2 separate regions of the Homo sapiens genome follow, and region 1 is linked to region 2. Evidence: fine-mapped expression QTL. A gene starts in region 2. The other region holds a variant in brackets. All regions are shown on one strand. Distances are from middle to middle.

Evidence for each region.
Region 1: its variant is fine-mapped to the expression of KCNH6 in lung (GTEx, PIP above 0.99).

What each region holds. Positions count from the first base shown.
Region 1 is chr17:63,494,257-63,508,795 of GRCh38, forward strand. ACE (angiotensin I converting enzyme) reads left to right here. Exons shown (of 25, transcript NM_000789.4): 22 at 116-214; 23 at 2,138-2,260; 24 at 2,542-2,729; 25 at 2,881-4,117. The coding sequence ends at 3,110. It also overlaps the pseudogene ACE3P. Among named protein-coding and RNA genes, the nearest start is that of KCNH6, 22 kb to the right of the region's middle. The variant G/A (reference allele first, on the strand shown) is at 4,632.
Region 2 is chr17:63,515,367-63,531,270 of GRCh38, forward strand. KCNH6 (potassium voltage-gated channel subfamily H member 6) reads left to right here and starts at 7,992. Exons shown (of 13, transcript NM_001278919.2): 1 at 7,992-8,123; 2 at 8,773-9,003; 3 at 14,725-14,886; 4 at 14,971-15,176. The coding sequence starts at 8,048. It also overlaps the pseudogene ACE3P. RefSeq lists enhancers at 1,310-2,509, 1,506-1,615.

The sequences.
Region 1 (14,539 bases), 22 kb before region 2:
AGAATGGGGTGCCCAGTATAGCCCCAAGTGCAGGGACCCTCCCTCAAGTCAAAAATGCCACCCCCAGCCTGGTTCTCCCCAAACTCATCTTCCAACATATATTCCCACTCGACAGGCTGAAGTACCAGGGCCTCTGCCCCCCAGTGCCCAGGACTCAAGGTGACTTTGACCCAGGGGCCAAGTTCCACATTCCTTCTAGCGTGCCTTACATCAGGTAACGGGAAAGGCAGGAGGGCACATTGTGAGGGGCAGTACCCACAGCTTTGTGTTTCAACTGCGGCCACTGCCCGGTCCACAAGCTCTGTCAGTCAGGGCAGACCCGGGGGAGCCGGCCGCACGGTGCAGGTGCCTGGGCCCACTCACACTGCCAAGGCTGATGGGTTTTTTCTTGAACATTCTTTTGATGAGAGTCTGTACCATCCAAACAGTTGAACACAGAAACTCAACCTAATAATTGGCTAATGGTTACCAGACCTTGGTTAAGTAGTTAACATTAACCACGACTCATGGCTGGATCATGAGCTCTGCACTGTTTTGTTTTGCTTTTAAAACAAGACTGTGATTCTTTTACTATTATTGAACATTGTCTGCGATACAATTTGAATTGTACCTGGAAGCCCTTCTAGACACTAAAATGTAGGATTGGAGATCGGTTAAGGTGGGAGGCAGGGTTGCTGGGGCAAGTTACAGTCACAGGCTGGGGTCAGACAGAACTGGGTTCAAACTCCGTCTCCATTACTTTGTTTCCTTGAGAAAATTCCTCAATTTCTGTGAGCTTCCATTTCCTGACCTGTGAACCCCATTTCACAGGATGCACGATGGCTAACTTCTTAGCATTCTGTCTCATACACAGCCTCCTCAGGGAGGGGTGGCCAGGACCCCACTATTCATCACTCTCTAGTGGAATGTAGCTGCACACTAGGTCTGCAGGTCACATGGCCACAGATGAGTGTGCCCAATGCAGCCCCTCTCCTTCTGTGTGCCCCGGGAGAGCACTTGCTGAGGGCTAGCAAGGCTGTTTGTGATCCGGGAGGCTCCCTGGGAGGCTGGGGGCTAGAGAGACCTCAGGCTGGAGTTCCAGGTGCCCCCGGGCTACAGGTAGCCCAGGCCACCCCCAGAGGGCTGTGGCTGCCTCTGGCCCTGGCCTCCCGTGGTTCCTGGAAGCCCAGCAAGGGCAGGGCCCATGCCCACCTTGCCTCCTGGCACCTGGGATGATGCCAGCACATCATCAAGTGCTAATAACTGATTGTGGGATGGATGAAGTCTGTCCCCAGAGTCCAGGAAGAGGGCATCCCTGGAGCACCTCAGATAGGCCTGACCTAGACGGTGCTCCAGAGATGACACTTAGGACAGGGCTCCCGCCTGCCTGCTGGAGTGGTCCCTGGGGTTCCCAGCCGGCGCTGGCTCTCACCCGGGAGCCAGCTGGTGTGATGGCTAGCTTCCCAGCTTAATGCAGACAATTCTCCAAACAGGGGTGGGCAAAGGAGACTTGGCTGCTCTAGAAAAACATTCCGGATTCTGGCCAGCAGCCTTCACAAAGCACTTTTAGGAAAGACCAGGGAACTAGGTGGTACATGCTTGCACCCAGCATTCAAAGTGAGAGGCCTGTGCCACTGGCTCAGGACATTTAAAACCTCTTCAGACTTTAAGCTGGGGAGAATCCTCCAGCCTTGACTGGCAGATTTCTACCAGGGAATTCGTGATGCTTTGGATAAGATCATGTAGGACTGGCTTCCCTGCCCAGACCACCCTAGTAGATCCACACGGCCCATTTGGCCACACCTTGCCTCTACTTGCATATACCCCAGGGATGGAGACCTCACTGCCTCCAAAGCCACCTGCCAGATCTCTGAAGGCTCTGCCCTGACCCCATGGAGCAGGCCCTCCTGAGTTGTGGAGGCAGCTCTGTGGGTGGGAGGCATCTACACAGGCACGGCTAGGAAGAGGCTCAGACAATGCTAAGAGCTGGGGTGGGGGAGCTCACCCTGATAGCTGTGGGCAGAGTTGGGGGGCCTTGGCTCTGCTGTGCGCATGTGACTTAGCACACATCACATGTGATGTGCAGAAGGGCCTGGGGCCCAGTGGCACAAGGCCCTCAACCAACTCCGCCCCGGGCCACGGCCTCGCTCTGCTCCAGGTACTTTGTCAGCTTCATCATCCAGTTCCAGTTCCACGAGGCACTGTGCCAGGCAGCTGGCCACACGGGCCCCCTGCACAAGTGTGACATCTACCAGTCCAAGGAGGCCGGGCAGCGCCTGGCGTGAGTGTCCTCCAGCCCTCCTTTGTTTCCATGCTCTGGCCTGCGCCCCTGGGCCTTGAGGGGTCTGTCCACTGGAGCTTTTGTGGGAACACTTGCCATTTTGAGCCGGGAACTCCCACCTGCAGCGTGGGCCAGGCCTGATTGCCATCTCCTTAGGCACCTGGAGCCCTGGGGCCCTGGGACAAGTTTCAGCTGGGAGTGGGTATGGAGAGTGGATGTCAGGTGGGGGCAAGAGGGGCCATGTCCTTCTGACTCTGCCTCCCTGTCTCATGCCTCCCCAGGACCGCCATGAAGCTGGGCTTCAGTAGGCCGTGGCCGGAAGCCATGCAGCTGATCACGGGCCAGCCCAACATGAGCGCCTCGGCCATGTTGAGCTACTTCAAGCCGCTGCTGGACTGGCTCCGCACGGAGAACGAGCTGCATGGGGAGAAGCTGGGCTGGCCGCAGTACAACTGGACGCCGAACTCCGGTACCGCCACCCACCCCACCTCCAGCCTTGGGTCTTAACCCCCTCCCCAGGCTGGGCAGCCATGCGGCTGACCTCGGAGCCTGGCCCTGCCCCGCACCCTTGCCCTGCCCTGCCCTGCCCTGCCCATGCTGTCTCCTTGCTTCCCGCTCAGCTCGCTCAGAAGGGCCCCTCCCAGACAGCGGCCGCGTCAGCTTCCTGGGCCTGGACCTGGATGCGCAGCAGGCCCGCGTGGGCCAGTGGCTGCTGCTCTTCCTGGGCATCGCCCTGCTGGTAGCCACCCTGGGCCTCAGCCAGCGGCTCTTCAGCATCCGCCACCGCAGCCTCCACCGGCACTCCCACGGGCCCCAGTTCGGCTCCGAGGTGGAGCTGAGACACTCCTGAGGTGACCCGGCTGGGTCGGCCCTGCCCAAGGGCCTCCCACCAGAGACTGGGATGGGAACACTGGTGGGCAGCTGAGGACACACCCCACACCCCAGCCCACCCTGCTCCTCCTGCCCTGTCCCTGTCCCCCTCCCCTCCCAGTCCTCCAGACCACCAGCCGCCCCAGCCCCTTCTCCCAGCACACGGCTGCCTGACACTGAGCCCCACCTCTCCAAGTCTCTCTGTGAATACAATTAAAGGTCCTGCCCTCCCCATCTGAGTCTGTGTCCCTCACAGGGAAGCCAGGGACAGGGACAGGCTGCTTTCCTGCCTCCTGGCAGTCAAGTGGGTCCCGTTACTAGGTTTGTTCCTCCATCCTCCTTCAGGAGCCGGGGAGGATCCCCAGAGCTCTGCCCCAGCACCTCCTGGCGCTGGCGCCTGTCTTCCCTCCAGCCCAGGCAGCCCGCCACTGTCCTGCCACCGCAGGCAGCCCCTGTCTGGCCCAAGCACTGACCCACGCGGACTCTGGGAAGCAGACATCCTGGGCTGCTGGCCTCACATTTCCACTGGCAGTGGAGCCTTTCCCTGCTCCACAAATGGCCAGGTCCCCCCAGGGGAAGGCTTCCGGCTGTTATCGGCTGCCTCAGGGGGCGAGTACCTTGGAGGGCCTGCTTCAAGGAGGGTGCCCCCTGGAGGGCACACACCAGCCTAGTGCTTACCTTGGCTCCTGCCTGTACCAGCTCCATGACTCTGCTCGGGTGAACAGCCTTGGCTCTCAGACAGCCATTCTAACACTGCCAGTGCAGAGGGGCCTCAGACGCTGGAGTGTAGCAGTGGCTGCACCTGCACAGGGATTAGCTGCCAGCAGCCACCCTGCTGGCGTCCCAGCACACACCTCCTCACTCCCTGCATTGGAGGGAGTGTCATTTTAAGGGACATTTTTATGACTTTTATGTGTATGTTTATGTAGAAATTTGGAAAATACAGAAAACTGTAAAGAAAATAAAAGCCCTTTATATCAACGTCAAGAGATAAGCCCTGTTGACGTTTTGGTGTACAACTTGCCGGACTTCTTCTCAGCACATGTGTATTTTAAATGGGATCACACCATATTTACAGTCATACATCCTTTTATCACTTCATACAACTAGATCTGTTTTTCTGATATTTAAATGCCAGACTTCGAACTTGGCCAATAGAAGTTGGTCCATTTGCTGGGGCCAGGGGCTCCCCAGCCACCCGGGCCCCTCTGTCAAACCCTCAGCCCTGAGTCTCTTCTGGGCTTTGCTGATGTCTTCACCCTAGCTAGGTCCATCTCCCAATATCTGTCCCCCTTAGTCCACAGCTTTTGCCCCCCAATCCAGGTGCCGTGCGTGTCTCTGTGTGTCCGTGTCTGTGTGTGTGTTGTACACAGGCTTGGCTGTTACAGGCCCATTCTGTAAGGCAGGATGTGGGGCTGAGGTATTTTAGGATTGAAAGAGGGTGGAAGTTTATGATTACATAGGACAATGGAATTTATAAACATGTCCTCTAAATGGTTCC[G/A]AGTCATCTACCAATGAAGACTTCTTGAATTATCCCCCCTTTTCCCAGCCTGTTTTGAAAGCTCTTTGTTTACCAGACAAAGGTCATCATCATATGACCCCCTTTGCCTTTTTTTTTTTTTTAAGATGGAGTCTCGCTCTTGTTGCCCAGGCTAGAGTGCAGTGGTGTGATCTCGGCTCACTGTAACCTCCACCTCCTGGCTTTCAAGCGATTCTCCTGCCTCAGCCTTCCGAGTAGCTGGGATTACAGGCGCCCACCACCATGCCTGGCTAAATTTTTGTATTTTTAGTAGAGATGGGGTTTAATCATGTTGGCCAGGCTGGTCTCGAATTCCTGACCTCAGGTGATCCACCCACCTCGGCCTCCCAAAGTGCTGGAATTACAGGCATGAGCCACCATGCCTGGCCCCCGTTTCCTATTTTTATGAACCACAGCGGTTCATGCTGCCTGTCAGAGCTTCTGGGCCGCGTGAGGTCACCAGCTTTCAACACGCAAAGGACTGCACTGCAGCTGGGGGAAGAGAAACTCCACACTGCATTGGCCTGGCCAGCCTTACCCTCTGGGCTTTTGAAATAGTATCTTTTTTCTGTTTGTTTTCAAACAGAGTCTCGCTCTGTCGCCCAGGCTGGAGTGCTGGAGTGCAGTGGCCTGATCTCGGCTCACTGCAACCTCCACCTCCCAAGTTCAAGCGATTCTCCTGCCTCAGCCTCCCGAGTAGTTGGGCTACTACTTCAGGCGCACGCCGCCATGCCCAGCTAATTTCTTTTGTATTTTAGTAGAGATGGGGTTTCACCATGTTGCCCAGGCTGGTCTTGAACTCCTGAGCTCAGGCAATCCGCCCGCCTCAGCCTCTCAAAGTGCTAGGATTACAGGCATGAGCCACCGCGCCCGGCCCAATAGTATCATTCTTTAGATGCCTGCCTCTGCCTCCTTGGGTGAGTGGGGAGAGGCAGGGGATACCTGGAAGGTAGCAGAGGAAGAGGAGGCGGTAACAGCAGGAAGAGGGGCCACCCCAGTGTTTTCTACTGGTGGCCCTGAAGGCTGAGCCCATCCCCGTGCCATGCCTGCCAATGCCGCTCTTGGGAGACCAGCTCTCACCTACGCTAGCCACAGGTGGTGGCTGCCAGACAGTTTCTCTGATCCCCACAGCCCTCCCCACCCTCTACCTTCCTCTGTCTGCCTAACCCCCTTCCCACCCACCCTGGCTTTTAACATAAGTGAAAAAGTGGCTAACCCCACCTCTGCACTTATCACCTGTGTGACCTTGGGCAGTTTGTTTTTGCAGTCTGCATTTTCTTTTCTTTTCTTTTTTTTTTTTTTTTTTTGAGATGGAGTCTCGCTCTGTCACCCAGGCTGGAGTGCAGTGGCGTGATCTCGGCTCACCGCAAGCTTGGCCTCCTGGGTTCACGCCATTCTCCTGCCTCAGCCTCCCGAGTAGCTGGGACTACAGGCGCCAGCCACCACGCCCGGTTAATTTTTTGTATTTTTAGTAGAGACAGGGTTTCACCGTGTTAGCCAGGATGGTCTCAATCTCCTGACCTCGTGATTTGCCTGCCTCGGCCTCCCAGAGTGCTGGGATTACAGGCGTGAGCCACCGCGCCCAGCCTGCATTTTCTTTCTTACGGTTCTTATCAACCCTCTCAGCGTTGCCATGAAGATGAAATGAGATGATGTACAAAGTCCTAGTAGAGTGTCTTCTCTTTATAATGAATGCATCGTCTCCTGAGAAAGCTAGTTTCATAACAACCCCAGATCAGCCAAGTCCAGATCAGCCCTCTCACTTGAGACAGGAAGAGGACTCGGGGCAACTGGGTGCCGGAGCTGGACTGAAAACTCCCATCTCCCAGCTGCCTTCCAGGAACTTCCCCACCACACGTCCTTGCACAGCCAGTCAACTGTCTTCTTACTGGGAGCACACAGAGCTCGTCCACTGGGGGCCCACAGCTTGCCTCAGTTCCGGGAGTACTCAGCCATCTCCCTGTGTCGCCTCTCCCTCATCATCCCTCCCCATGTCACATCTCCCTCAGCCTCTCCGTGTTACCTCTCCCTCATCCTCCCTCCCCATGTTGCCTCTCCCTCATCCTCTCTCTCATCCTCCCTGCCCGTGTCGCCTCTTCCTCATCCTCTCCCTCATCCTCTCCCTCTTCCTCTCTCCCCATCTCTCCTCTCCCTCATCCTCCCTCCCCATGTCACTTCTCCCTCATCGTCTCCCTCATCCTCCCTCCCTGTGTCGCTTCCGCCTCATCTCCCCTCCCCATGTCACCTCTGCCTTATCCTCTCTCTCATCCTCTCTCCCCATCTCTCCTCTCTCTCATCCTCCCTCCCCATGTCGCCTCTTCCTCATCCTCTCTCCCTATGTCACCTCTCCCTCATCCTCTCCCTCATCCTCTCTCCCTATGTCATCTCTCCCTCATCCTCTCTCCCTGTGTCACCTCTCCCTCATCCTCTCCCTCATCCTCTCTCCCTATGTCACCTCTCCCTCATCCTCTCTCCCTATGTCACCTCTCCCTCATCCTCTCCCTCATCCTCTCTCCCTATGTCATCTCTCCCTCATCCTCTCTCCCTGTGTCACCTCTCCCTCATCCTCTCCCTCATCCTCTCTCCCTATGTCACCTCTCCCTCATCCTCTCTCCCAATGTCATCTCTCCCTCATGCTCCCTCCCCGTGTTGCCTCTTCTTCATCCTCTCCCTCATCCTCTCCCTCATCCTCCCTCCCTGTGTCGCTTCTGCCTCATCCTCTCTCCCCATGTCTCCTCTCCCTCATCATCTCCCCTCACCTTCGAGGATCCCCATAAGACCCTGCCTGGGGATTTCTATCTTGCCCTCTGTCTCCTAACTCTTGCTCATAGTGCTCACCCCATTTCCTGTCCTGTGTGCCTGGCGATTCCCCACCTGTGTCCTCCAGGCCCGGTGCTTCTGATTTTTAGCCTACTGTTTAATCTGGCTGTCGAGAGTTTTGTCGTTCCAATTTAATCCCTATATTTTTCATTTTAGCATCCCTGCTTCTTTCAAACCTCCTGGGTTTTCATAAACGCCTGTTTTTGCCTCACAGATTCTGTTCTCTGAATCACTTTAAAGACCTGGTTTTTTTAATTGTGGCAAAATATACATAATGTAAACTCACCATCTTAACCATTTTTAAGTGTACAATTCAGTGGCACTAAGTACATTCACATTGTTAATTGTTGTGCAGCCATCACCACTGTCCATCTCCAGAACAGTTTCATTTTTCTGTGTGTGACAAGGTGCCCCCAAAAAGTGTGCTTACTCTGTTGTCCAGGCTCACTGCAGCTTCAACCTTCTGGGCTCAAGCAATCCTCCCACCTCAAGCTCCACAGTAGCTGGGAGCACAGGCATGAACCACCACACTCAGATAATTTTTTTTAAGTTTTTAGTAGAGGCCAAAGCACGGTGGCTCACGCCTGTAATCCCAGTACTTGGGAGGCCAAGGCGATCGGATCACTTGAGGTCAGGAGTTTGAGACCAGCCTGGCCAACAATGGCAAAACCTCATCTCTGCTAAAAATATAAAAATTAGCCAGGTGTGGTGGGGGTCGCCTGTAATCCCAGCTATTTGGGAGGCTGAGGCAGGAGAAGCACTTGCACCCGGGAGGCAGAGGTTGCAGTGAGCCAGGATCATCCCATTGTACTCCAGCCTAGGCGACAGAGCAAGACTCTGTCTCAAAAAAGAAAAAAAAAAATTTTTTTTTGGTAGAGATGGGATCTCCTTATGTTGTCCAGGCTGGTCTCGAACTTCTGGGCTAAAGTGATCCACCTGCCTCGGCCTCCCAAAGTGCTGGGATTACAGGTGTGAGCCACAGTACCCAGCCTCTGTACCCATTAAACAGTAAAATCATACAGTATTTGTTTTGTCTCTGGCTTGTCTCAGCATAATGTTTTCAGTGTTTATCCATGTTATAGGATGTGTCAGAATTTCCTTCCCTCTTAAGGCTGAGTAATATTACATTACATGTATATACCACATTTTGTTTATCCATTCATTCATCCATGAACATATGGGTTTCCACCTTTTGGTTATGGTGAATAATGTTACTATGAACTGTAAAAAAAAGTAATTCAAAATCAAAGCTGTTGAAACTTTAAATTATTCTGAGCCTTGAAGGAAAGTAATTTTGGGACCTGAGTCACTTACGGGCAGCTATGAACTTTGTTTCCTTGATTATAGATTACTCCTTTTCCCCTTAGCTACATCATTTTGTAAAATGTTATAAAAGACTGAAGGGTGCCATAGAAGTTCCCTTTCCTCTTTTCTGTTGAACTTCATTATAGATGATTAACTTCCCTCTTCCTTCTCCTACGCAAAGACCTCACGACTGTCACATTGTCCAAGATGTGTTAAATGTACTCTTTTAAACTGAAAAAAAGAAAATAAGCTATTACTAATCAAATTGCTGTACCTCATAAACCAAACTTATATGGGAAATGTTGTGATTCTACCTAATTTCTTAGTTTTCTGACTATAAAGTAAGACCTTAAACTTTTCAGCTTCAGAGCACTGACCCCATTTCTTTGGAGCCTGTGAGAATGGCCGTCCTCAGCTTCACGCTCGAATAAACCTGTTAAACTGGATTCTGATCTTTTTTATTATTTCAGGTTGACAGAACACTGTGTGCAAATATCTGTTTGAGTCCCAGCTTTCAGTTCTTTTGTGTATATACCCAGGAGGATTGCCCGATCATATGGTAATTCTATGCTTCATTTTTTTTGAGGACCCACCAGACTGTTTTCCGCAGCGGCTCTGCCATTTTCCCCCAGCAATGCACAAGGTTTCCAATTTCTCCACACGTTGACCGACTCTTGTTTTCTGTTTTTTTGATAACAGCCATCCTAATGGGTGTGAAGTGGTGGCTTTGATTTGCCTTTCCCTAATAATTAGTGATATTGAGCATATTTTCCTGTGCTGATGAGCAGCTCATGTATTTTCTTTAGAGAGATGTCTACCCGAGTCCTTTGCCCATCTTTGTTTTTGTTGTCGTTGTTTGTTTGTGTTTGTTTGTTTGTTTTGAGGTGGAGTCTCACTCTGTCACCCAGGCTGGAGTGCGGCGAGGCAATCTCGGCTCACTGCAACTTCTGCCTCCTGGGTTCAAGCAATTCTCCTGTCTCAGCCTCCTGAGTAGCTGGGACTGCAGGCGCCCACCACCATGCCCGACTAATTTTTGTATTTTTTTAGTAGAGACGGGGTTTCACCGTATTGGTCAGGCTGGTCTTGAACTCCTGACCTCAGGTGATCCACCCACCTCAGCCTCCCAAAGTGCTGGGATTATAGGTGTGAGCCACCACGCCTGGCCCTTTGCCCATCTCTGAATGTTTGAGTTTGAGGAGTTCTTTATGCGTTCTGGGTATTAATTCCTTAGCAGATCTGAGAGTAACAGATATTTTCTCCCATTCCATGGATTGCCTTTTTGCTCTGTTACAGTGTTTTTTGATATGCAAAAGTTTAAAATTTTGATGAGGTTCAATTTGCTTATTTTTTCTTTTGTTGCCTGTGCTTTTGATGTCATATCCAAGCAATCATTGCCAAATCCAATGTCATGAAACTTCCCTCTGTGTTCTAAGAATTTTGTAGACTTTGCTCTTTTGTTCCCTCTTTCTTCTCCTACACAAAGATCTCATGACTGTCACATTGTCCAAGATAAGGTGTTAAATGTACTATTTTATTATTTTTATTTTATTTATTTATTTTTTGAGACAGAGTTTCATTCTGTCACCCAGGCTGGAGTGTAGTGGTGTGATCTTGGCTCACTGCAACCTCTGCCTCCCAGGTTGAAGCGATTCTCCAGCCTCAGCCTCCCGAGTAGCTGGGATTAGAGGCATGTGCCACCATGCCTGGCTAATTTTTGTATTTTTAGTAGAGACAGGATTTCACCATGTTGGTCAGGCTGGTCTTGAACTCCTGACCTCAAGTGATCCACCTGCCTCAGCCTCCCAAAGTGCTGGGATTACAGACATGAGCCATTGTGCCCAGCCTTAAATGTACTCTTTTAAATTGAAAAAAGAAAATAAGCTGTGATCCATTTTTGAGTTAATTTTTATACATGGCATAAAGACCTGCATTTTAAGTCCCTTTTGGATTGCTCTGCTACTTGTCCTTCCTCCATTGCAGTCTGCTTCATTCATTGTGTCTGCAGTTTAGCACAAGCTCTGGAACCAACCATATGAATTTGAGTCCCACTTCCACCATCCGCTGGCTGTGTGACTATGAGCAAATTCCTCAACCGTTCTGTACCTCTCTTTCCTCATCTGTAAAATGGGAGCGTTGATCACAGTACTTACCTCATGGGTTTCTTGTGAGGATTCATATGTTGAAAGCCCCCAGATGGTCCCTGGCACCTGGAACCAACCCACAGTGAGGGTTGGTAATTATTATTGTCCCTCCTAAAACTGGATTTTCTCTTATACTTGGTAAACTGTACCTATCAGCCATCTTCAGTTGGGTTGGAATGGCCTGCACAATCCCATGCATGCACCTGACGCTTGCAGGGGCTCCCAGCTTGGCAGAGACGCCATTTCCATCGGGATCAGCTATCCCCCCACACCAATGCTGCAGCTCTCTGGATGGATGCACCCTGACCTCCCCTGTGTTAGAGGAGAGGTGGGCGTGTTGAATCATGGAGGCAGACTTCCCCTTTGCCGTTCTCGTGATAGTGACTGAGTTCTCAGGATCTGGTTGTTTAAAAGTGTGTAGCGCCTCCCCCTTCTCTCTCTCTCCTGCCACCATGTGAAGATGTGCCTGCTTCCCTTTCGCCTTCCACCATGATTGTAAGTTTCCTGAGGCTTCCCCAGCCGTGCTTCCTGTACAGCCTGTGGAACTGTAGAGCCAACTAAACCTCTTTTCTTTATAAATTACCCAGTCTCAGGTAGTTCTCTATAGCAATGTGAGAATGGACTGTCTACATGCTTGAAGCAGGAAGGGAGACTTTCCTGTGAGCTCAGTCGATCAGCTTAACCAGAAGTGTCACTATTTTTTTCTTTCTTTCCTCATGTTATAAATATATTTTACCCATAATGGATCATATTGGGGGGTTATTTGGTCAGTTTCTCTAGTCGTGGTATCAGCCCATGTGTAGAGGTAGGGCCTTTTTGAAGATGTGAGCCATTGTGGGCTGAGAGTGATGGAAGGCAACCCAGGGTACAGGGATTCTGAGTGTGGAGGGAAGTGAGTCTGAGGAGAAATCCAAGGTGAGACAGATGGAGCTGGCCTCCACAGACCTCAGTGCAAGAGTACTGGGGGTGACCACAGGCCTACAGAGAGCTGGTGTCTTGCCAGCTGGTTTTCAGATCAGGCTCAGGTACTCATGGGCATGCACCCTGGATGGAGGGTGCCCGCCTCACCTCTCCACACCCCACCCAGTCCCTACCTTGTGTGCCCTCTCCTAATTGCAAACTCATAACATCAGGGTCTCCCTGGAGAAACAGGTATGATGGGGAGGGCCCTGCACAGCCCTGGGGTTGATTGCACAGCCCATAAGAGAGAAAAAGCCCAAACACGTGAACATAAGAGGTCAAGTTAGAAGAACCTAGAGAGATAACCTGGCTTCCAGAGACCCAGATATATCACATCCATCCATCCATCCATCCATCCATCCATCCATCCATCATCCCATCCACCTGCTCAGAAGTGGTCCCAGCCTATGGAGGGAGGGCCTCATCAATCCCTGGCCATAACCCAAGGGTGGCTCAAGCCCCAGGGAAAAGTGGCCGAGGAGAGCAGAACAAGTTCTGGCCTAAAAGTCAAGACCCCTGGTTCCTCTTTTTGGCTCGCCATTAGCTAACTACATGAACCAGATCATTTGGCTTGACTTTCTGGACCTCAGTCTCCCCACCTGTAAAATGGGGACAGTTGGACCAGGAGGTGGATGGGGATTTCCAGTTCTAACATTCTGTAGCTGAGCCTCTGGCCTCTGACGTCACAATATGGAGCTGGCCTCACCCAGCTCTGCTGCTCTGTTGGTCATGGGAGCAAGGTGGACTTGCCCTGGACCTTCCCTACTTGTGCTCCTCTGTTATGGGCAGCTCTTGCCTTGGCTCAGGATCAAGGGTGAACACAGTTTAGGTGTGGCTGGGACCCCAAGAAGCATGGGACCAGACAAAGGGACTGGGTGCGGACAGGACCTTCTCAGCACATGATGCCCATATCCTTCCCTGCAGATGACTTCTACAATGAGACCGAGACCAAGATCTTCCTGCAGTTTTATGACCAAACAGGTGAAGTTGTGTTGAACAAGTTCATGGAGGCCACTTGGAACTATGTCACCAATATCACCAGGAAAAATCAGGAGGAGATGATGTGATACCACCTCCACCCCAGCCTCTCCTCTCTTTGCTCTTTTTAGGGATTTGGGACCATGGGGCACCACATCTCCTGCCCCCATCCCAAGCAAGAGGAACAAGGGAAGCCCCAGTGTACATGTCAAAGAGGGCTGCAAGCTCTGGGCCTCCTGGAAGCCCTAAACTTCCTCCAGGCAAGAATCTCTTGCTTCTTGTCCTTTGTAAATCTCACCTCCTTGCTTTTAGAGATCCAGGTTTCTGCCCTCTCCCTCTCAGCAAATCTTGCTCCCTAAGCCAATGGGATTAGGGAGTCAGTTAGGGTGCCATGGCCCTGGAGGTCAAGTGGGACCCTTCCCCTGTCCCCCAACCTTGGTGGCTCTCTTTGCAGCTGCACAAGGACATGGAGAGGTCCCAGTTCATGATTTACTTTGGCACCCAGGCCCACCTGTTTAAAGTCACCCAGTTCAAGGACCCGGATGTGAATGGCATGCTGAGTAAGCTGCAGAACATAGACAAGGCGGCTCTGTCCAAGGACGAGCTGCGGGAGGTGATGGATGGAACCCCCAGGCCTTTAGGCACATGCTCCCTGGTCCTAGGGGTCTGGTAGGGGAGACAGAGTGCCTGGGGCAGGAGGGAGGCAGGGAGTGGAGGAAGGGCAGGATCAGAACTTCCTCTGGAGAAGGAGAGGAGTAGAGGTGGGGGTACCGATCTCTCCTGGCTGGTGGGGCGAGCACTGGGGGGGGACCTGGGGCACCAGCCTACCCTGGGTAACACCTGTCCCCCCAGTATAACGAGCTTCTGGCCTACCTGGAGATGACATACAGTATGGCCCAGGTGTGCCTGAATGAGGGGCCCTGCCTGTCCCTGGAGTCTGGTGAACACCCAAGCCCTGTCCCACCCAACCACAGAATCTCCAGCACTCAGTCCCTTCCAGGGGCCCCTCCCAGCCCCCAACCACCCTCCCTTATTGCCAGGAGGGTGAGGGAAGAGGCAAGTGGGAGTGGGTCCCCCATGGCTCCTTTTCTGGGCATAGAACTCGAAGTCATGGCCACCTCCAGGGACAAAGAGGAGCTGCTGTGGGCCTGGCAGGGCTGGCAGGATGCCGTGGGCCGCCAGATCTGCACCACCTTCGAGCACTATGTGGAGCTCAGCAACAAGGCTGCACAGCTCAACGGTGAGCAGATGGGATGCCACAGAGCTTGGAGTGATGGCAAGGAAGGGGCAAAGCTGAGCTTTCCCAGAGTGAAGGTGGCCGTAGGGCCCTGGAGACAGGACCTATGAGCCCTGCAGCTGGGCTCTCCAAATATTCATAGAGCACCTAGGTGCTAGGTGCTGGGGAGGTTCTGACGACACATAGGTGAAAAGACAGGCACCTGCCCTCATGCACCTACGGTCCTGCAGGGAGACAGACCATATTCAGTAAACACCTGTCTCTCACTACCATCTGGGGTGATGCGGAATAGGAAGAGGCTGCTGAGAAAGAGAATGAGAAGAGGCTGCTGCAGACAAGTGGACAGGGAAGGCCTCTGACATTTATCCAAGACCTGAAAGATGGGCAAAAGACGGGAAGCAAGATGTGAAAGAAGAGCAGCCTAGGCAGAGGCTCCGCGGCAGGAGGAG
Region 2 (15,904 bases):
CCTTGGAGATGTGGAGCTCACCCACCGACTTGATCATTTTCCTGTTGAATTTCAACGGATTTCAATAGGTCCATTTCCCTAATTGGTCAAGGTCATCTTGAGCTTTATTCCTGTCTCCTAGAGGATTAACACTGCCACAAATTTAGTATCCTTTGCAAATTTAATGAGCATATTTTTGATTCCACCATGCAATTTATCTGTAGCCACCAGGCCAGATGGGGTTTCAGGACTGATCCCCTGGGCTTTGCTCCTAGGGAGGGCTGCACCTTGCATGACTGTTGTCTCCCTAGTAGATTTGCTCTTCCATCCTTTCACGTCTCAGGGCTTTATTCTAGCTGATTGCCCAGCTTTGAGCTTTTCTGAACATGTTGAACATAAGGGCACCTCTCTGCTCTTTGCATTCCTATCTCTGGCTGCCTGTCATTTATTCATTCAGTAAACATTTACTTGTCCTCATGCAGACCAGCTGCTCTGCATCCAACAGGGGTAGATGAACCACAGGATAAATAAATTTCATGGCCGGGCATGGTGGCTCACACCTGTAATCCCAGCACTTTGGGAGGCTGAGGCTGGCGGATCACCTGAGGTTAGGAGTTCGAGACCAGCCTGCCCAACATGGAAAAACCCCGTCTCTACTAAAAATACAAAAAATTAGCTGAGAGTGGTGATGGTTGCCTGTAATCGCAGCTACTTGGAAGGCTGAGGCAGGAGAATTGCTTGAACCTGGGAGGCGGAGGTTGCAGTGAGCCGAGATCATGCCACTGCACTCCAGCCTGGGCGACAAGAGGGAAACTCCATCTCAAATAAATAAATAAATAAATAAGTAAATAAATAAATTTCATAATACCAGGCAATGGAAAGGGGCTTTCGTGAACATAGAAAGAGGATTAGGAGGTCATGCTGGGGGACCAAGGAGGGAGTTTTGTCCTCAAATGCAAGTGTGCAAGAAATAGCAGAAAGCAGGCATGGTGGCTCATACCTATAACCTCAAAACTTTGGAAAAGCCAAGATGGGAGGATCCCTTAAACCTAGGAGTTTGAGACCAGAGTGGGCAACATGGTTAGATCCTGTATCTACAAAAAATGAACAAAATTTGGCCAGGCATGGTGGCACGCACTTGTAGTCCCAACTACTCAGGAGGCTGAGGTAGGAGGATCACTTAAGCCTGGGAGGTCGAGGCTGCAGTGAACTGAGATCACACCACTGTGCTTCACCCTCGGCAACAGAGCGAGACCCCCGTTTAAAAAAAAAAAAAAAAAAGGAGAAGAAGAAAGAGAAAAAAATAGCAGATATCTGTTTTCTTTTCTTTTCTTTTCCTCTCTTCTTTTCTTTTCTGTTTTTGAGACAGTCTCACTCTGTCACCCAGGCTGGACTGCGGTGGTATGATCTCGACTCACTACAACCTCCACCTCCTGGGATCAAGCAATTCTCGTGCCTCAGCCTCCAGAGTAGCTGGGATTACAGGCACACACCACCACGCCTGGTTAATTTTTGCATTTTTAGTAGAGACGGGGTTCTACCATGCTGGCCAGGCTGGTCTCGAACGTCTGGCCTCAAGGGATCCACCCACCTCAGCCTCCAAAAGTGCTGGGATTACAGGTGTGAGCCACCACGCCTGGCCAAGATATCTGTTTTCTTTTACATCAACTCACCTCTTTCATCCCACCTGATTGGTGGGATGTTTGACCTCAGTCATTTTCACCACTTCCCACGCTCACCCCACTCAAGGTGCACAGGGCTCTCAGGGTCTGACTTGGCACCAAAGCATGTGGCCAGTGAGTCATCTCTTGTCATTGCTCACCAGTCCCTGTGTGTCCCTGGCCAGACTCCTGCTCAGGGAAAATCCTGATTCCAGGCTTAGGACTTCACATACCATTTTGTGAGCCGTGGGCAGAGGAAAGGTTTCTGAGTAAGGAGGATATCATGACCTTTGCAGATGATGAAATAGCAGCAGAGCCGAATATGGTTTGTGGAGGGGAGAGGGGATGTGAGTGCTTGCAGGGGGAAAAGAGAAAGATTCTTGGCTGCTCTTTTGCCTAATTGATCTTAAAACTTGGTTTTGCTACTTTTGATTCATCCTCCTAAATGTGATGGCCCTGAGTCAGGCTCTGGGCTGCTTCTGTTGGGAATGGAGGGTTGAATTGGGCCTGGTCAAAGTTCTCAAAGTCACCCAGCTTCACCCCACCAGCCATGGTGCGCCTGACCTTGTCCATGGGGTGTGTTGTTGTCACTTTGGAGTTGAAAGCTCCAGGCAGCATCTAGTTGTCATCTCTGCTGCTCTCTGGTCTCATGTCCTGTCCACATGGGCTGTTGGCTGCCCTTTGGTCAAACATCTTGTCCCACCCAGCCTGAAGGACTGTTTCTAAATGGGTAGATTCTCAATGGTTGAAGCTTTTCCCCTACTAGGTTCTTCCTCTTACTCAGGAGCCAGCATCAGAACCTCTTACCTAGAGTTAGTTGTGGTTTTTCTTCTCCAGTGGTATCTGCCAAGGCCCCACTGACCTTTGGTTTCCCTAACTCTTTCTTTTCCAGTTGTTTATTAAGTGATGCGCATAAGCCTTTGCAAGCTACAAACCCTCCTTCATCATTGTGGGACTTAGTCCTCATCACAATGAGGGCAGGTATTCATGGCTCCCATTTTACTGATGAGGAAACTGAGGCCGAGAGAGGCTAAGTTGTCTGCTTAAGGTTATGCAGTCCATAAGTAGCACTGCTAGGTCAGGTTTAAGCCTGGGCCCTGTTAGTCTAGACTCTAGATCGTGACCTCTGGGCCTCTGGGTCCCAAGTCTGTCCTGAGAGTTGGATCAAGGAACAACAGGTTGTGAAGGATAAACATCTGCCCACCACTGCCTCTCCTGGGGACTCTGGAGTGGAGAAGCCTGGAGCCCTGGCTTCAGCACACCTTATACTCCCATTGTGAGCCCAAGGGACCTAGCATAAAGTTCAACCACCTGCCCCTAAGGACCGGGTGTGCCGTGAAACACAGCTGACATTTGTGCAGCACTACAGGTGGTGTGCGGAGCACCTCCCATGCTCATGATGTTTCTAATCCTCCCAAACCCTCCCTGAAACCAGAAAGGGGTGAAGAGCTGCCACTATCTACCAACACCGAGCACCTCACGGGAAACAGTGTCTCAGGACTTTATGCCTATTTGAGTCCAGGAGAATAATAATCATCACAGTATTACCAGTAGTACTAGGAATCATCATCATCATCAGTAGTTAACGTGTATTGCCTGCATGCTATGCTCCCAGCACCGTGTTTATTTAATCATTACAATGGCTCTTCGAGGTAGATACCATTATCATCTCCGTTTTATGGATATGGAAACTGAGGCTCAGAAAGGTTACTTGCCCAAGGCCCCACAGCTACTAAATGGCAGAGCTGAGATTCAAACCCAGATTAATCTTCTTTCAAACTTGTGATTGTATCCACTATGCCAAGCTCTGCGGGAAAGTTCTGGCTGGCCAATCGCTGGGGCTGGGATTGGGTGCACTGGGGGTCTCAGCTGCACCAGCTGATGCCCTCACACAGCCTCACAGCTGCACCCACTCCCCTAGGGATGCTCTAAAGCTGGGCTCAAGCAAGCCCTGGCCAGAGGTCCTAAAGATGCTGACTGGGGAGTCTGAGGTGTCTACAAATGTCTTCATGACCTACTTCAAACCCCTACTGACCTGGCTGGTGACAGAACATGCAGCAAGGGGACATCTTAGGCTGGCCAGACTTCAGCTGTTCCTTTGAAGGTTTGATAATCTGACCCTGGTTCCAGCTCTGGGCCAGCCCCAGGCTCCACCTTACCCTGCTCTGTCCTAGTACCTACCCCTACCCAGCCTTAACCCCTGGCTCATTCATGACCTGGCTTGAATCAACAGCACTGCTGCTGTGGGACCCTGTCTGTACCAGGCCTGATGCAGCTTCAGCCAAGACCACCGCTCCCACCACAGCCCCTGGCTCAGTTGCTTCCTTGCACACTGTCCAGCTAGGTTGCCAGGCTGACATCTGAGCAAAGGATCAGCATCTTGCCTCTGGTCCCTTGCATGCAGGGGCATGTAGTCCAATCAGATCTCCTCTGACAGCCACAGGAGACCCCAGGGGTCCCTCTCCAGTTCTACCCACCCTATGAGACTCCTATGTCTTCCACAGAAAAAGACACAGACAAAGTGACATTCCTGAGTCTGAAGCTGGACCCCAACCAGGCTAAATTTGGGTACTGGGTGCTGTTGGCCCTGGGCTTTGTCATGTCTCTGGTGGTGCTGGGGCTGGCCTGCAGGCTGCAGTCCCTGGAAAAACAGTCACTGACTCAAGACACTGAGATATTCAGCCCACTGCCCAATGCCTGCTTCCTGGGCATAGCCATGGAACCCTGCCAGGCTGCTAAAGGACAGTGGATGCTGCTGGGCCTCTGCCTTGTCCTGATGCTGTGCTCAATCAGCCTGGCCATCTGGATTTTCACACAGTAAAGCAGGAAGCCTCCAAGGGTAAGAGCTGAATGGTGAAGTTGGGACTAGACACCAGTGAACTGGTGAGGCTGGGGGGCAGGAGGAGGGAGGCTGAGCCAGAGAGTTGGGGGGCAGAGGAGGGGACAGCCTGCATGCATAGTGCCCAATTATAATTGGGTTCAGCTGTGGCAGATCTGGGTACATGTGATATTGTAATTGTGTGTTTGCAAACTCATGTATGTGAGGCTGTGTGCACAAACAACTGGCTCTATGTGATTCTATGTGTGTCCTGGGTTTCAGGCCAAACTCCTTCCCCTGGTGGCTCAGGACCTAAGGTTTTATTGACCCAGTGGCTGTGTCCCTGCAAACCAGCCCCCACCCCAAGTCATGCCCAGAATTGGTTCTGCACACAGCCTTGTTTTTTTCAGTAACCCGGCTATGGGACTGCAGTGCCCAAGGAATTTCTGCTCTGGTTAGAAAAAGGACTCTGCTTCAGTCCACTTCTGCTCTGGTTAGAAAAAGGACTCTGCTTCAGTCCACAGTACATAAAATGTACTCAGGTAGGACAGGACATTCCTTTACGAATCACCAGTGCCCAGTTTATGAGCACTGTGCTTTTATACCAACCAGCACATCTTTCTGCTAATCCTTGGGCCAGCCCTGTGTTGGACTACATAATCCAGCCCCCAAAAGCTCTTTGTTGACCAGTTGAGATGTAAGTAGCCTCACAAACTGCCCCATGGCTCTCTCTGCCCCAGCCCAAGCCCTTCCAAATGGAGACAGTGGGTTGCTGGGCATTGAGCCAGGCTTGATTAATGATTGACTTCTTTAATATTTAAACAAAGCTCATCTCCAACCACTCTGCTCTGGAGATGGCCTTGTTCAACACACACACACCTGCTGCCTGGCCCGTTGCCCTGGGGAGCGAGCATAGGACAAACAGCACCTTTTCAGGCTCAGTGGGGGATGGGGAGGACAGGAAGGAGGGAACTGTAGGAGAATACTTGGGAAATTAGTGCTCTAGAAACAAGCCTGGGGAAAGAACGGGAAGGCCTCTGCCTCTGCCTTTCCTAGTTCATTATCCTCAGCCTGGGTCTGCCTGCCATGAGGATCCTACATTCAATATTGGGGATTCAGAGCGTCTGGATGGAGGTTGCATGGGCTCCTGGGGAGGCTGGGAGTCAGTGTCTGTCAGAGAATAGGGAAAACTTGAGGGGAAAGGGCATTATAGCCAGTAACTACAGAGAAGGGGTACCCCGGCTGCAACTGAGCTGGTGGGAGGGTGGCCAAAAGAGGAGACCAGGTCTCTCTGAATTAAGAATCTGAGCCCCAAACTCAGGTGTTCAGGGGACAGAGATACTAGGCTGAGATCTCCATGGACCCTGCCCCTGTCCAGGTTTCAAAAGGTCTTTCTGAGATCTGGCTGAGCCCAAGCACTTGCTCCAGCCCCAGGCTCCACAGCACCCTTGTTTGATGACTCTGTCCCTGCTCTTACTTTTCTGTGCCATAATGTCCTTATTTGTCCCTATTACTAGCTATCAGCTCTATAAGAGCTGGATGCACATCAGGAGTGTGCCCCTCTGTAACAACTCTAGTCAGCACAGGCCATGGTGCACAAAAGGGACTTGGAAAATGATGGAATGAGTAAGTGAATGAATGAATGAATGAATGTCCCACTGCCCAAGTCCCTCCTCAGAGCTCAGCACCCCATGTACTGAGCTCATGAGAAATAGCCCCTTCTTTTCCTCCACAGCCAGCCTGTCCAACAGAGGGGCAGCCAGGACATCTCTGCCCTCTTCTCATCCCCCAGCCACAGTGGCCAAAGAGGCCCCCACTAGGCACTGTGGCTCTGCATGACAAACACACATCCAGCCCAGGACTCTAAGCCTCTCACCTGGACTCCAGTAAAAACCTTGCTGAGCCTCCTTGTCTATCCTTCCTCCCCCACCCACCATTGTAAAGTTTATGTCACCAGAATATTTCTTTCATGTCTAATTGCTTAAGAACTTGGTTGTTCATCAATTAAATCTAGATGTTCAAAATGGCATCTGAGGGTCTTTATTAATTACCTCCTTCCTCCAAACTCACCTCTCCCACACCCCCTTGTTCCCCCCACCCCAGCCCCTCTGCACTGACATCACCTTTGGCCTTTGCCTAAGGTGCATGCCCCATTTGAATGCTTGCCCTCCAAGATCAGGCTCAAAATTGCTCACCAAACCCTCTGCAGCACTACAAGCCCACCCAGATGCTCAGTGAACAGTAGTCCCCTTCTCCCCTTCCTCTCCAGGAAGCCTCTTTCAATAAACCTATTCCCACCCCCATTTGCTTTTTCTAGTGTGTTCATTTTCAGTCAGTACTCAGTACTCAGACACTTTTATCAGTGGTCACTTGCTAATAGGTGGTTTTAAATCTGTTCTCCTTCCAAGATGTACCTGTATGCTAAGAGCTCTCAGGCCTCTGAAGAAGGCATCTTATTGCATACTTCTTTCTTTCTTTCTTTTTATTTTCAGATGGAGTCTCGCGTCTCGCTCTGTCTACCAGGCTGGAGTACAGTGGCGCAATCTCGGCTCACTGCAACCTCCGCCTCCCGGGTACAAGCGATTCTCCCACTTCAGCCTCCCAAGTAGCTGGGATTATAGGTTTGCGCCACCACTCAGCTAATTTTTGTTTTTTCAGTAGAGACAGGGCTTCGCCATGTTGGCCAGGCTGGTCTCAAACTCCTGACCTCAGGTAATCTGCCCACCTCTGCCTCCCAAAGTGCTGGGATTACAGGCGTGAGCCACCGCGCCTGGCCCTTATTGCATATTTCTTGCACGTCTTCATGTGTACTCCTACCCCCTCCTCTCAGGACCAGGCCCTGGCTGGACTTGGCGGCAGGAGCTCTGCATGGGACCTAGGTCTCAGCTGAGCTGGAGATCACTTGCTATAAGAGCAGGCCAGAGGCCTAATGGTATCATTGCCAGGGTCGGGCCCAGTGGTCAGACCCGGAAGAAAGCTTTCAGCCAAAGACCACCTGAGGCCCCTAACAACCCCATCTGTAGCCCCCCTCCTGCCTGGGAAACTCCCTGCACTGGGAGGGGAGACTGCCCTTTGGTACTGGGAGGGAATCGGAGAGGTGCTGAGGCCATTGGCCCTTAGGACAGGAACAGAAGCAGCTCCTCAGAGAACACCTGCCCTATTCCAGGGCCAGGACCCCAGCCCCGCCCCGCCCCGCCCCGCCCCGCCCCGTAGGATGCAAGGCCCCGCCCCAGCCCCGTCGGGTCCCAGAGAAACTGCCCCGCCCAGCGGCCCCCTCCCCGCCGCCGGCGCGCGGCTTCTTTCAGCACCAAGGCGTGGACAGCTCCCGGGCCGGCGCAGAGGAGAGGAGGCCAGGAGGGCGCGGGCCAGGGAGGCGAGGGGAGGGCAGGGGAGCGCAGGAAAGGAAAGGAGAGGTGGGGCAGGGGTGGGGAGGGGAGGGCAGACGCAGGCTGGCGGGCGGGGCGCGGAGCCCGGCGGCCCTCCCCGGGGGCGGCGCCCACCGGAGCCGGACGCTGCTGAGCCCGAGGACAGACGGAGACGCCGGGAGCCAGTGGCGCCTGTGGCTCCGGGCAGGGGCCGCGGCCGAAAGATGCCGGTCCGCAGGGGCCACGTCGCTCCCCAAAACACTTACCTGGACACCATCATCCGCAAGTTCGAGGGCCAAAGTGAGTGTGTGTATGTTGGGGCGGGGGGACGATCTGGAGTCCTGGTTCCGTGAAAGGGGGGGCTGGACCCCTTTACTAACTTCTAACCGGGCAAGGTGGTGAGTGCCGGGTGCTGAATGAAAAATCCTTCTTTTGATGTCCCCAACACCTTCTCCTCCAGGGGGACCCGCTTGCCTTAAATGCTGTCCTCTTTTCTGGAACACAAGGAGCAGCGTGCAGGCCTTCCCTCCCTACTGCCAGCTGTTTCCTTGGTGCCCCAAGTTCGAACCTCCCCTTCCAGCCACTGCCTGCCCCCTCATCCGCGTCCTCCAGAGGCTTCTCTGAGTCCTTCTTTTCCTTCCTTTTCATATCCTGGTTCTGGTCTTCCCAGGAGCTTTCCCAGGCCTGACCCCCATCTGGTCACATCCCTGCCTCCCTTCCCCACACTTTTCCTGTTTCCAGGAGGCCTTGGGCCTTCCTTCCACCTCAAGACCCTCACTGCCCTAGTCTTCCCACAATCCCCAGGCCTGACTCCCTCCCTCATTCCGGTCACTGCCCTGCTCCTCTGCCTAAATTCCCCTTACTGCCACCAAGAGTCCTTATGATCTTTCCCTCCCAGCCGCTGGATCCTGGCTCCCATGGACTTTTTGCCTCCCACCTCCCACCCCAGGTCGGAAGTTCCTGATTGCCAATGCTCAGATGGAGAACTGCGCCATCATTTACTGCAACGACGGCTTCTGCGAACTCTTCGGCTACTCCCGAGTGGAGGTGATGCAGCAACCCTGCACCTGCGACTTCCTCACAGGCCCCAACACACCAAGCAGCGCCGTGTCCCGCCTAGCGCAGGCCCTGCTGGGGGCTGAGGAGTGCAAGGTGGACATCCTCTACTACCGCAAGGATGGTGAGGCATACTCAGGCCAGAGGCTTTGCAGGGCAGGCTTGGCCCTCTGTCTTGTCCAGCCAGGGTGGCCTTGGGGAAGGCACTGACCCAGGGTCCAAAGGGCCTGAACAAACCCTGTTTCTTCTAGGGGCCTTGGTTCCTCCACAGGCATTGGATATGATGCCTTCTGAGGTCCTTTGCAGGAGCTAGGGATCAGGCTGGGCCACCCACTGGTTCTGGCCTGGGGCAGGGCCTCCTGCTCTGCCATCCCTCTGCTGTGTCCCTGGTCTCCTGGCTCTCCACTATCTTACTGTCAGCCCCAGCGGTCAGGCAGCTGGGATGGAAATTAACCTTCCCTCCTCTCCGTCTGCTCCAAGGATTAGAGGAGGAGTCACCTCCTGAAGACCTCTGTGGCCAGGCAAGGCATGGGGGCTTTTGGCTGGCAAAGTGGGGTGGGCCTGCCTTATCCAGTCTCAGCTCTTTGGGGAGACAGGGTCTGGAGTTTTCCCTGACCAAGAAGCTCATTCAGATGGAGTTTGGGTTGTTACTGCCAGCTGGAGCATACTGCAAGCAGAACAGAAGCGTAAGTCAGGAGCTGAAGACAGATCTCAGCAGCCCTTGGAAATCCTCCCCCACCCCCCAGGACCACAGGGTCCTCACTGGACCTGGCAGCATGGGTGGGAACGAGGAAAAGAGCCTGAATGTCCTGGGAAATCTCTTGAATCAATGGCCCCCAACCTGGTTCTGCATCAGAATTACCCAGAGCATGTTTTCCAAAACATGCTTTCTCTACAGAGAGGCTGACTCAGAAGGTGTGAGATGAGGCCAAGCGGGTGTATTTGGAAATATCTCCCTGGTGGTTCTGATGTCCTGCTTACTTTAGGAACCACTGGCTTAGGTAAATCCCTTCATTTCATAGATGTGGAAGGGATTTGCCCAAGATCCCACTGCTAGAGTCCAACCTGGGACTGGAACCCAAGTCTCTGGATTCCTCCCTCGGAGATTTCTTTTGAGTAATCCCAAGAGGAGAGAAAGGACCCCAGCTGCCTTTGTGTTTACAGGCAGGATTTCTGGGGAAGGAGGTGCTCAGGGGAGAGAAGTCCCCAGGGAAGGCAGGCATGAGGCCACCTGAGTGGAGATAAAGAATGGATGTCTCTGGATCGGGACCGAGGAGTGCTGAGAGACCAGGTTTCAGGGGCCTGGAGTGTGTGAAACATGAGCATGTGTGTGCTTGCATGTGTGTGCCTCTGTGTGTGAGTGTGTGCTTGCAAGTTCACGCCTGTGTGTGTGTGTTTGCAGGCTTCTCAGAGTTACAGCTTCTCGGGTAGGTCCTGGTTGTTCCTGCTGCTGCCACTTGAGTGAGTGGCAGTGGGAAGTGCAACAGGCAGCGGCAGCCAGGAAGGGACTGGGAAGAATCTGGCTTAGTGTGGCAGTACTCACAGGGTTAATGAACTCAGAATATTTTTAAAAGCTGTGACCTCACCTCCTCACATCATTGCAGAGGAGAGGTGGCAGTCAGGGGAGTGAGAAGGGTCCTGGGGAACAGGATGGGACAGCAGGAAATGGGGGTTACAGCAGGTCCTTTCTTTTCCTCTCCTTGACACTAGAGCTATACCTGATCCCAGATTCCTAGGGATGTCAGGTGATGGCTCTTGAGGTCCCCTCAGCACCCTGAAGGTGTCTGGGCAGAGGGCAGAAGTCAAAGCCTGGCCTTGGCCCCCTGAGATCAGGACTCAGATCAGAATCCTGTGGGAGTCCTCAGGTCTCAGAAGGGAACCTAGGAACCTTGTCTTGGGGGCTGACCCTCGGTGAAAATGGGAAATTGCCCACATACCTGGTGCCCCATAAGTCCCAATCTACTCCCATCCCACCCTCGGCCCTTCCCTATCTTATTGCCCAAGGCTTTGATTTACCTGGACCTTCCTGAAATTGTCCTGAAACCCAGAAAGGGGAGCTTCCTGGCCTGCATTACACTAAGGGAAGGATATTGTGCTCAGATAACTGATGTTCACCTTAAGGTCCACTCTGACCTCATATAATCCTTTTTTTTTTTTTTTTTTTGAGACAGGGTCTTGCTCTGTCACGCAGGCTGGCAAGAACATAGCTCACTGCAGCCTCCCATCCCAGCCTCCTGAGTAGCTGAGACTACAGGCGCGCACCCTCACACCCGACTAATTTTTTAATTTTTTGTAGGGATGGGGGTCTCACTATGTTGCCCAGGCTGGCACATGATCCATTTTTGACCATATTCATGTACACTTACAGTCCTGCTGAGGGGCATCCTAATGGTGATTTCTTTCCTCCTCGGGTCAGTACCTCCCTTCCCCCCAACCCCCAACTCCAGGGAGGTGGGAAGGGGTCCTGAGCAGATCTCTAGCTGATTTATGTATAATCCTCTTTTCCTCTAAAGGGGTAATCCACTGAAAATTCTCGAAGTCAAAGTGGAGGGTTTGTGTTCACATAGCTCCACGTTGTGCAGCTACAGACATTTGGGCTCAAAGAGGCCAGGGCACTTGGCAAAAATACCCCGGGAGACATCTCAGAGACCCCTGGGAAACTGGCTCTTCCTCTATTTGCCTTTGCTAGGAGTGGTGAGAACCTAACAGATAAGGAGGAATGGGGATGTGGCAGGACTAGAACTGGTGAGAGTTTGGCAGGAAGAAAGGAGAGCACTCAGATCCCCCCACTGTCACCCACGCCTGCCCCGCACTGGCACCTGCCCGGGAGCCCACCCCAGCCTGCCTTTCCTGGGTCCTCTTCTCTGAGGATCCCGAACCAGAGAGTCCCCTAATCCCCAAGCCAGATCAGAGGAGTCCTGGGACTTCTCCAGTCCTCAGCTCTTGATGAGGAGGATGGGACAAGGGGCTGCTGTCTGCCCCCACCCTCCTCCCATGTTTACCATATGCACATCTGTGAATGCCAGGAGGACCAAGCTAGGAGGCAGCATGCAGCGGCCACCCTCTCAGTGGCAGCTTTTTGGCTTTTTGTAGCACCAGCCTCTCCCTGGGGACTCACCACAGTGCTGGATGGGGTGTGCATCGGGAGACAGAGGTGAAGACAACAAGGAGGTTGTGAGTGCTGGGAAACTGAACGAAGGAGCACATTCAAGAGGGAGAGAAGAGGAGAGAGAATTGGGGTCTCCCAGGGGAGAGAAGTGGGGTGCCTTTGCTAAGAAAAGTAAGAACCTAGCATATAAGAAGGAATGGGAATTCCCAGGGGGCAGACAAACCTGCTGCCCTTGGTCAGAAAGGTGGGTGCTGGGAGGAGCTCCTGCAAGGAAGAAGCAGGCAGAGACTGTGGCTCCTCCTCCAGGGCCCTGGTGAGGGCACAGGAACACCATCCCTCCTGGGCATAACCTGAGATGGTACAGTTACCCACTTTTGGTCACCTAGATGTGGGCTTTTGTTGTGTGGGGGCTCTGAGCCACGGGTAAGCAAGGACAACCTGGGGCAGGGGGAGAGAGAATGCTCTGGACTCTTCCAAATCCTCCTAGCCTCCTGTCTGCCTACCCAACAGGCCACAGGCATGGGGGCAGGGCATGGGGTACCACGCACTGGCACCCCACCCCAGCCCCAGACCTCACTGCTATAACGGGCTGGTCTTTGGTCCATTCCCAGCCGCAGTTTTCCAATTGCATCAATTTTCCAGTAACATCAATTGCTGGGTGCAGCCACGCCAAGACTGTGTATTGACAGCCCCCAGCAGCTTAGAGAGCCCTGGAGGCCTTCTGCCCCTCTGCCCAGCTCTGCCCTCTCCCTGCCCCCTGCCAGGACAGATCTCTGCAGTGCCAGAGAGATTGACAATATAATCTGGCCTTAGGAGCAGTGTCCGAGGCCACTGGCCAAGGAGGCTCCCTGTCTAGGTCCCAGCGTCCACGTGTCACCATGCCCCAGGCTGACTGGAGTTATGGGCTTGGGCCTGGGAGTCTGGGCCTATAGCACTATGTGCCCAGGAGTGGGTGAAGCAGGCAGGCGCCTCTCCCCAGTGTGGGTGTCTCCCCTGGGCCCAGGCAGCAGATGGTAGATGGCTGCCTGGTGCCTGGGAGTCCAGAAATCCAATACGAGAGATTCCTACTCCCCAGGGAGGAAAGCGAGAGGGAGGATATGGGTGGCTCAGCTGCACCCCAGCTCTGATGGCTGTGAGGAGGGGCTGAGGACGAAACAAGGAGTCTGGTGGAGAGTCATTCCAGTGAGCTCCACAGCAGTGATACTCCCACCAGCGGCCGGCCTGCGTCCCCCACACGTGGGCTTCCATACATTCAGTCAACAAACAACACCTGGGACAGGTGAAACAGAGCCTAACCTGCCCTCAGGGAGTGCAGCTCTGCCTTCTCATCTGCGTGGTCACCTGAGGCCCCTGCCCCCTGAGGATCCTGCCCTTTGGGCCTGACATCTGCCAACAGTTTGAGTTGAGGGACATAGGACTCCCATGGAGAGGGTGCTCGTGGGGTGCCTGGCCTGGGGCTCTTGGGTATGGGGTATTTTGTTTGTTTGTTTGTTTGTTTGAGACAGAGTCTCGCTCTGTCACCCAGGCTGGAGTGCAGTGGCATGATCTTGGTTCACTGCAACCTTGGCCTCCTGGGTTCAAGCGATTCTCCTGCCTCAGCCTCCTGAGTAGCTGGGACTACAGGTGCGCACCACCACGCCTGGCTAATTTTTGTATTTTTAGTACAGACGGGGTTTCACCATGTTGGCCAGGCTGGTCTTGAATTCCTGGCCTCAAGTGATTCGCCTGCCTCAGCCTCCCAAAGTGCTGGGATTACAGGCATGAGCCACCACGCCCGGCCAGGCATGGGGCATTTTAGCTGGTATTGTTCCATCCACCAAAGGGGGCTGCAGCCAGACCCTGGAGGGGCAGAGTCTACGACCTGAGAGGCACAGAGCAGCCAGCCGCTGGGTGTGGGCTGCCCAAGATAATGGGGAAGGTGGCCAGAGGGGCCTGCCCTGCCCCCACAGGGCCATCCTCCTCCCTCTGTGGTGCCCAGGCCACTACTCTGCCTGCTCCCTGGGCCCAGCCCTGCCTTGGGACCCCACACTCCTCCTAGGCCCAGAGCAGCAGCCTGGTTCTGGCCCCAGCACTCTCCTCCCAAACAAGTCCCTTCCCTTTTCCAAGCTATTGTGTCCTGCAAACCCAGGGATCCTCTCTCCATGCTCCCTCCCAGCCCTTGAAAGTCAGTTTCTGAGAACCTCAGGCTCTCTTCTGCAGAATGGGGGTCCATGCCTGCCCCCCAAGGACCTCCTGAGGCCAAATGTTCCAACTGGCCCCATGCCCAGCACTTAGTGTACTTTCAACAACAAATTCCTCCCTGCATCACAGGAGCAGGGCATCTTTGCAGGATGGGAATATGGGAAGAGCGCCCAGGGCCAACCCAGCTCCATGGGGTAGAATGCCCAGCCTCACCTCCCCACTTAATCCACCCCCATCTGCTCAGCTTTAATTACAGCAGAAGCAGACCTCGAGGTTAAGCTCTGAGCTGATGGCCGAGCGTGGACTTGGGCCTGATCTGATGCTACCTTATCTCCTAATAAGCAGCTTAACCGCTCTCCCCACCTCTGCCCTGTGGGTGGAGCACCAGCTGAGCAGCCTCACCCACCCTCTGCCCAGTATCTCTGGTCACTGTCCAAGCCTCTTCACCCGTGGCTGCCCTTCACTTGACCTTCACTCAGCCCCTTCCCTAGCCAGGCCACTGCAGGAGGGGACCCCTTCAGGGCCCACCCCCCATCCTCCCAATGGTGTTCGCAGCCTCCAGCTTCCGCTGCCTGGTAGATGTGGTGCCCGTGAAGAACGAGGACGGGGCTGTCATCATGTTCATTCTCAACTTCGAGGACCTGGCCCAGCTCCTGGCCAAGTGCAGCAGCCGCAGCTTGTCCCAGCGCCTGTTGTCCCAGAGCTTCCTGGGCTCCGGTGAGGCAGAGTGAGGGTGGTGGTGGGAGGGACGCATGAGGGTCCCCTGGCCGTGGCTGCTCTGACTCCTGGCCCTGGTTTCAGAGGGCTCTCATGGCAGGCCAGGCGGACCAGGGCCAGGCACAGGCAGGGGCAAGTACAGGACCATCAGCCAGATCCCACAGTTCACGCTCAACTTCGTGGAGTTCAACTTGGAGAAGCACCGCTCCAGCTCCACCACGGAGATTGAGATCATCGCGCCCCATAAGGTGGTGGAGCGGACACAGAACGTCACTGAGAAGGTCACCCAGGTGCGGGCCTGCAGAGCAGGGTGTGCAGAGCTGTGCCAGGCCTCCAGGGTCCCCTCCCAGGCTCTGGGCCCAGGCCCTTCTGGGGCCTTGGCCGATAAAGAGATCCTGCCTGTCCAGCCTCTAATATCTGGTTTGAGCCCCGGGCCTCCTGTCCTGTTTGAGACCTAAAGACCTGAAGGCCTGCCCTGAGGTCACAGCCCTTGTGCCCAGCTCCTAGAGCCAGAGGAGGCTGGGGTCAGTAGGGCCTGTGAATGATGCCACCTCCTAGGCCTGGAGAAGCCAGGGCAGGGGATGGACATGGAGGCCACCATGGGGGCCTGACCAAGGCTCAGCCCGTCACAGGGAAGGAGAGGCAGAGAGGAGACATGCCAAGGCCATACTGAGAGGAGAGCTGGTGTGGGGGGGGGTCCCAGCCCTGTGCCAGCCCTTTGCCTTTGAGACAAAAGCCACCCTCCCTACTTCCTTCCAATGTGAACACAGGATCCTCCTGCATGCCAGGCAGGGCAGGATGAGGCTGGCACCTCCAGCTATCTTTAATCAGCTTCCTGGGGGCCAGGCCCTGAAGGACCCCGGCAGCTCCTCCTTGGCCACCCCAAGGCAGGCTTCCCTGGGTTCTCTGCTCCAGCTCACCCTGCTGTCCCTTCTCATGAGGCCGGAAGCCCTGACCATTCCAGAGGGAAATGCGAGGAGCCCTGCCCGAGGCTCCAGTGACCACAGTCCTGGCACTG